2 linked regions of the Homo sapiens genome follow. The protein of the gene in region 2 interacts with the protein of the main gene of each other region in a pairwise test. Each region holds a gene or a part of one and is shown on either strand. Other genes may lie near its edges.

Evidence for each region.
Region 1: the proteins of TGFB2 (region 2) and UNG interact in binary tests that used the Homo sapiens proteins (3 or more experiments, as listed by UniProt).

Annotation. Positions count from the first base shown.
Region 1 is NC_000012.12:109,107,564-109,111,775, reverse strand, and holds the end of UNG (uracil-DNA glycosylase), read right to left. Parts: intron 1,948-4,212; coding exon 1,807-1,947; 3' UTR 784-1,806; downstream 1-783. UniProt on the Homo sapiens protein: Uracil-DNA glycosylase that hydrolyzes the N-glycosidic bond between uracil and deoxyribose in single- and double-stranded DNA (ssDNA and dsDNA) to release a free uracil residue and form an abasic (apurinic/apyrimidinic; AP) site.
Region 2 is NC_000001.11:218,407,714-218,411,529, reverse strand, and holds part of TGFB2 (transforming growth factor beta-2 proprotein isoform 2 preproprotein), read right to left. Parts: intron 1-3,816.

The sequences.
Region 1 (4,212 bases), on a different chromosome or scaffold from region 2:
TGCATTCTTTCTTGCCCATTTAGTTAAAAGTTTCTCTACTAAAAGTACAAAAATTAGCCGGGCGTGGTAGTGCATGCTCGTAATCCCAGCTACTTGGGAGGCTGAGGTGGGAGGATTGCTTGACCCCTGGAGGCAGAGGTTGCAGTGAGCCGAGATCGCGCCACTGTACTTCAGCCTGAGCGACAGAGTGAGACTCGCTCAAAAAAAAAAAAAGAAAAAGAAAGAAAGAAAAAAAAACACAATTGTGGCTTCTTTCTTCGGACACTGGGGGATCCCACAGATCATCCTGACAGCCCCCACTACCTGAGCCTGGGCTGCGGGCCAGTGCGTCATCAGGGAGTCTTCCTGGAGCCCTGGCCTCACTTCCGAGTTCCAGATGTCTCGGAGTCTAGAAACACTGGCTGAGCGGGGGATGCAGGCGGCTCCCCTCCAACGTCACAGGGCTTGGCAGAACGTAGCCACGACGGGCACGCCATGTTCCCCGAAGAAATGCCTTCCTCAGGCCGTTAGTTACCCCTCTGGGGTCTCAGCTGGCAGCCGGTGCTCCACGGTGCTCGGAGTTGGGGCGCTGCTCCAGGCCGGGGGTTGGGCCCAGCGCTCACCGCAGCCAGGGGAGGGTTGGGCCGTTCCACTGAGCGGCAGGGCGGGGAGGAGGGGCAAGGGCGGCCCCTCCTGCAGACGGTGGTTGCTATGGGAACCCTGGGAGGCGCCAAGGGAAAGGGCAGCCCAAGGACGTCCATGGATGCCCTGGCCTGGACGCACAAAGGACACTTGCACAAAACAAACTTTTAACAAACTTTTATTAACAAACCTCGCGTAGAGCCAACTCTAACCCGACTAACAGCAAAAACAGCATTGCTAACAAGATCAAGGATGGAGGTGCAGACCCAATAAAGACCGTCTCTTAAAAAAAGGACTGGGAAAAATATATATATATATATCTGCATGAGTACTTCTTAAAAAACTAAAACTTTCCAGTGTTGCAGGAAAAAATATCCCAAAGTGATTTCAGTCGGTTAAAAAAAACAGTACTTGGCAGTCTGTGCTGCCTTAAAAACCCCAACTGGACATAACCCTAGGAGAAAATCACCCCACCCCATAAAGACAAAATTCCCTTTTCTCCTCTTCCTTGTTCAAATTCCACTGCTTATTCCACCAACACCCAAGGAATAACAAGACCCAGCTTACTTCTCTCGGTCTCTTATCTGATAAAGCTCACAGCAATCTTAACCTCTACTACAATCAGGAAATTGAGCCCTAATTTCTGGGCCAGATTCTGGAAAGTTGCAAAACATCCTTATGCTGCGAGGGGCCTGAGGACTCCTTCAAAGATCAAGGGGGCAGTGGAACTGGCAGAGACTGGCATGCCTGCCCTGCAAGGCTGAGACAAGGGGACCTTTCTAAGCAAAAACACCCCAACATCTGTCACTGAAAGTCTAACCAGGCAAAACCAAGGAGCAGCAGGCGCCAAACTAGGGCTGTGCCTGAAAGGTGCACATCTCCCCTGTTTCACCATAAAGGCAAGGGAGATAAAGAGAGCCAACTGAGTATTTGACCTCATCTGTCTTCTGCATATTTTAGGCCGAAGCCATGTTGCAGAGAAAGACATTTGGTCAAAGGGTAGCCTTTGTTGTTTGTGGTTGGATACAGCTGCCATTCCTGGACAGCCTGGTTCATGGCTGCTTTCTGGAAGCTTTTCCCCCTTATGCAGAGTACTTAAGAATTAATAGGAAAATTTTCAGTGGAACTTCGTAACTGGCAAATACGTTAACAGCAGCTTCTCAAAGGCCACCCCTCAGCTGATGATCACAGCTCCTTCCAGTCAATGGGCTTCTTGCCAGACTTCTGCAGCAGCTCATTGGTCTTTGAAAAGTGTCTACATCCAAAGAACCCTCTATACACTGACAAAGGGGAGGGATGAGCCGTCTGTAGTACATGGTGCCGCTTCTGAAAAAGATCAAGAATAAATGGTGGCAGATTTGGGACTTTTTAAATTTTTTTTTTTTTTTTTTGAGACAGAGTCTTGCTGCAGTGGCGTGATCTCGACTCACTGCAACCTCCGCCTCCCGGGTTCAAGCGATTCTCCTGCCTCAGCTTCCCAAGTAGCTGGGACTACAGGCGCGTGCCACCACACCCAGCTAATTTTTGTATTTTTAGTAGAGATGGGGTTTCATCATATTGGCCAGGATGGTCTCGATCTCTTGACCTCGTGATCCGCTCGCCTTGGCCTCCCCAAAGTGCTGGGATTACAGGCGTGAACCACCATGCCCGGCCGGGACTTTTTTTTTTTTTCCCCAAAAAGGAAGGACTGTGGCTGTTGCACTTTAAGACCCTGTGCGATTCCCCTTTGCCCTCTAAATTCTCCCCCTTCCAAAGTGGAGCATTCAGCATTTGCATTAGAACATTAGTCCGTTTGTTGAGCAACTACCTACCTTTGCTAGGCTCTGAGATGCAAAGAGCACCACCCTCTGCCTTCAAGTTGGCAATTATCTATGCAATTTTCAAGTGTCCCTATCATACTGCCAGCAATTTCCACTGCTAAGACTGTATTTGCTAAAGGACACCATGATGCATACACACACAGATAAACTCCTCAACTTATTAACACAATGGATGGGGTTAACATCTTGGAAAACCCATCCTAAGTAGAAAATATCCTAAGTTGAAGATATATTTATGACATATAACCTGCTGAACATCATAGCTTAACCTACCCTACCTTAAACATGCTCAGAACACCTACATTAGCCTACAGCTGGGCAAAACAAAGCTTCTTTTACAATGAAGTGTTTAGTACCTCATGTAACTCATTGAACACTGTACTGAAAGTGAAAAATAGAACGGGGCCAGTCACGGTGGCTTACACCTGTAATCCCAGTGCTTTGGGAGGCCAAGGTAGGACAACTGCATGGGACCAAGAGTTTACAACCAACTGAGGCAACATAGCGAGACCCCATCTCTACAAAAAAATTAAAAAGTTAGCCAAGTGTGATGGCATGCACCTGCAGTCCTAGCTACACAGAAGACTGAGGTGGCAGGATCACTTGAGCCCAGGAGTTCGAGGCTGCAAAAAGCTATAATTGTGCCACTGCACTCCAGCCTGGGTGACAGAGCAAGATCTTTTTTTTTAATTTTTTATTTTTTGAGATGGGGTCTTACTCTGTCACCCAGGCTAGAGTGTAGTGGCATGACTGTGGCCCACTGTAGCCTCCACCTCCTAGGCTCAAGTTACTCTCCCACCTCAGCCTCCTGAGTACCTGGGACCACAGGTGCGTGCCACTACACCAGGCTAATTTTTTGTGTTTTTTAGAGACAAGGTCTCACTATGTTGCCCAGGCTGTTCTCAAACCCCTGAGCTCAAGTGATCCGCCACCCTGGCCTCTCAAAGTGTTGGGATTACAGGCGTGAGCCACTGCTCCCAGCCAAGAGACCCTGTCTCTTAAAGAAAGAAAAAAAAACAACGTGTGAGTGCTCAAAGTATGGTTATACACCATTGTAAAGTCGAAAAAAATCAGGTCAAACTTCATAAGCCAGGGACCAGTTGTACCTACACAAATAGGTACATATAAAGGGACTGACACACTGCTTATGTCAGCTAAAACCTAGTATACAATTCAGTGTTACAGAACTGGCTAAATGTATTTTTCTAAAGTTCTTACAATGTAAAACCACATAACTCCTAGAAAAACATGCGAAAGATAAATATACTGATGAGATGACCTCCAAAATTTACCAAGTGAACAAAATGCAAAATAATTTCATTTTTTAAAAACTTTAGAAAAATACCCAAGACACTGTATTTAGTAGTTCCTTTAAGAGAAAGAGTGGAAGCCATTTACTTTCCATTTTGTGCCTTTCTGAACTCTCTGAATAGTCTTACAGCTCCTAAGAAGGAAGAATTAAAAAACAAAAACAAAAACAAAAAAATCTCGCCACAAAAATGGAATAGTTGGCCGGGCGTGGTGGCTCACACCTGTAATCCCAGCACTTTGGGAGGCTGAGGTAGGTGGATCACCTGAGGTCAGGAGTTCAAGACCAGCCTGACCAACATGAAGAAACTCCGTCTCTACTAAAAATACAAAATTAGCTGGATGTGGTGGTACATGCCTGTAATCCCAGCTACTCAGGAGGCTGAGGCAGGAGAATCACTTGAACCCAGGAGGGGGAGGCTGCAGTGAACTGAGATCACGCCATTGCACTCCAGCCTGGGCA
Region 2 (3,816 bases):
CCCCATGTAAGAAACAAGACTACTCTTCTGGGAACACCACATGGAGACATCTGAGACTATCTAGGGGGAGGAGCCCAGCTGAGCCCGGCCTTCCAGTCATTCTACTGAAGTTCCAAGCATAGGCACAAAGCCATCATCAATCCTCCAGACCAGCCCAACTGTCATCTAAATGCTACCAAGTGACCCCAGCCAAAGCCACATGGAGCAAGACAATATCCAGCCAAGCTCTGATGAAATTTCTGACCCACAAAAACTTGTGAAGTATAACAAAATGATTATTATTTGAGGCCACAACATTTTGAAGCTTGTTGTGCAGCAAATAGATAACCCAGACAGTGGTATGAATCATACTATTCTGGAGGTGGTAAGGTTTTAAATGAGAAATGACTATTGAAAGGGTGTGAGTTGGTGAGAAGAAACTAGAAATACTGGAGAGCTCCAAGTCCTCTGAGGTTAGCAAATTTAAATATAAGTATTCTTTGGTGGTCCCAAAGGATTGTTTAGGGCCATGAAGTTATGGGTACCCTTAGATATGTCATTAAGTTCCCCAAGCATTTCTTCATGTGTAAAATGGGGATTTATCCAACTCCAAGACAGCAGGTGTTCTTGCCCATATAGAAGATGTTCAACTTGAAGAGAATTCTCCTTCCTATTTTCTTTCCCTCTACCTCATACTTCTGGTCATGATTTTAATCATACATACAGGGGAAACTTAATCAAAGAAAGGTGTGTTCAAATTTACAAATGGGCTGAGAGCTATAACAACTATCATGGGTTTGAATGCATTCCTAGAGCACTGGAGTTTTGTCTGAACATATCGCAATAAAGGCTGCCTTTGGCATAAAGCTTTAAAAATATGGCAAAGATCGTTACTATCTAAAAACAGTTGTTTTTCATCTTTGTTTTCTCCTCTTTCCCTTCATCTTTCAGACACTTTATCCCTCTCATATTCCCTCCATTATTGGTATACATGGGAAGCCTATCTTGATCACACCAGTAGATGCTATTTAGAGTTTGTTAACGTGAAAGAGGTTAGAGAAAGCAGGAAAGAAAGATTTTATTTTCCTATCATTCATTAATATTCTGACACACTGTTCTGTAGAGAGGGGAGGGTAATGAAAATCGTAAGTTCACAAGCTTTCAGGTTTAAACAAGCTCAGAGTGACTTCAACAGAAGCATGGGTTTCCTAACTATCCCAGGTGGAGAGAAACAATAGACCTTCGCAGCTCTGGACAAGACAAACCCTGAACTCATGTATAGAATTGTTATCCTACGTCCATCCAGCCTCATATTGTGACTCTAAAAAGAATACCTGGCGGCATTTTTATGAGACAGAATGACTCAAAACTCTTGGGCTATATTTTAAATCTGCGAATTCCAATTGGAAGATCCAAATCTGAACAATCACACATGTGAGTCACCAGGAGAGCTCTTTGAAACCAACATCTGTGCCGAGGCAACTCTCATTTTCCTTTCCAGGGAAAATCAGAATCCCCTTGAAGGAAACTGTGGTTAGTCTTCGTAAAAGCTCCCCCAGGGATTCCAAACCTGGTGGAGTGCCTATGCTCACATGTAAGTTCACAGGCACGTGTGCACACATGTACACACATACATACTCTCCTCCTACTGAACATCAGTGTCCTGAAGAGTCCTAATAAATAATCCAAACAACCATGTAAACGACCTGAGAACCTTTTCATAGTCACCCTGTTTTCCTCTAGGGATTAGGATGCCAATTGTGTGTCAAGTAGTACAGTAATCAAAGGGTATCCAAGAACTTCAAAGGTTTTGTTCTTCTGAAGAGCTGAGCTTTCCAAATAGCTGAAGATCTGCCCATTTAAGCATCAAATCTGTTTTTTTTTTCCAAAATAATATTTCAGCAATTTTGGATGTGAAACTCTGTAAAATTTATTGCATGTGTTCAGTTTCCTGACTATAATTTAGCCTCATCTTCATAATTCAAGGTTATTACCATCGGCATCAATTCCTGTAATAGGACTAGAGATGGGAGTTTATTACCAAAGACTACAAAGACCTCCAAATGGCAGCCGGAGACAAAAGGAAAGTTGGAGAACACCATACTAAAAATAGGACTCCAAATAAAGAGGCCAGAAGCAAAAGTCAGAAGCCAGACAGGAAGCCAAAGAGATAAAGAGTGGGTTAACTATAAACAGGGTAAGATTCAGAAAACTTGTCCACAACAGGCATTGCTTCTGTGGTCTGATTATCTGAGATAGCGTTACTGTGATACAGTGGTAAAAATCTTTAGTCTAAAGCAGAAGTCCCCAACCTGGACGGTACAGGTCCATGGCCCATCAGGAGCCGGGCCGCACAGCAGGAGGTGAGCAGCAGGCAAGCAAGCAAAGCTTCATCTGTGTTTACAGCCACTCCCCATTGCTTGCAGTACTGCCTGAGCTCCACCTCCTGTCAGATTAGCGGCGGCATTAGATTCTCAAAGGAGCAAGAACCCTATTGTGAACTGCACGTGCTAGGGATCTAGGTTGCACGCTCCTTATGATAATCAAATGCCTGATGATCGGACACTGTCTCCCATCACTGCCAGATGGGACCATATATAGTTGCAGGAAAACAAGCTCAGCGCTCCCACTGATTCTATATTATGGTGAGTTGTATAATTATTTCATTATATATTACAATGAAATAAAGTGCACAATAAAAGTAATGCTCTGTGGAAAAATTGTATTCCACAAAACTGGTCCCTGGTGCCAAAAAGGCTGGGGACTGCTGGTCTAAAGGACCTGCTGTTGATGTCACGGTGTCCTCCTCTAGCCCTCCTCTTTTAATTCAGTGCTTCTAATTTCTTCTGGCCCTACAGATAGTCAAACTAGTTGAAGCAATAAAAGACAAGAGGCTGCCTTTCTGATCCATCAAAAGTGTGTGTGAGTTGTCTTCTCTTCGGGTGTTCAAGGATCTCTTTGACTTGCTCTCTGGACCTTGTCTGTGCTTCAGGAGTTGTATAGCTGAGCCCCAGAAAGATAAAAAAATTGCTATTATTTTATATTTTTCTGCTAGAATCTTCTTCTTCCAGATGCCCGTGTATAGTGACAGTGAACGTGCCCATGCTTCTCCAAACTAAAAGCTTCCATCTTGGGCCGTTCCTCTTTCAAGCGTGGGACTCTAAGCCATGCACATCATGTCACTTGCGTCATGGAGCAGCCGGTGCTTCAGAAACCTCTGAGGCACATCTACCAAGAACTCACTAAGGTCCTCTAAGTTGCCAGCCTCAAGAGAAACACCCTTTCCTGGAGATGGGATGGGCCCTGGGAGGAAAAAAGCCATTGGCAAGCCTGCTGGCAGAGGCTACTCCTCAGAGGACAGGGTCAAGGGGCCACAGAAAAATAGGGACTTAGCAGCTTCCATTACAGGTAACAGGACCTAGGTGACCCTGCCTCCAATTTACTGAAGCCATGTAACTAAAGTAGGGCCAAAGAGAGCAACCTATGATGCTATCGTCAGCAAAGAAGGAAATTTAAGGGTGATTTAATTGGTAAAAAAGAGAAGAAAAAGGAGATATAATCATGTTTTTTGTTTGTTTGTTTAAATCATCTTGTAATTTATCTGGCTACCCTTAATCTGGCTTTTTTTCATAGGAACCAGTTTTTGCTTCCCCTCCAAATATTACTTCATCCTCTAGCCTAGTTTGTCTTATTATTCTTCTATTCTGGCTGATCCCAAGGGTAAGAGAAAGGGAAAATTTTGCTAGGAATAGCATAGTATGTGGTGAGGGGCAGGAGGGACTTGGGAGTCCGAGGTGGATTTGTATCCCAGCCCTGCCATTTCCCACCTGTGTGACC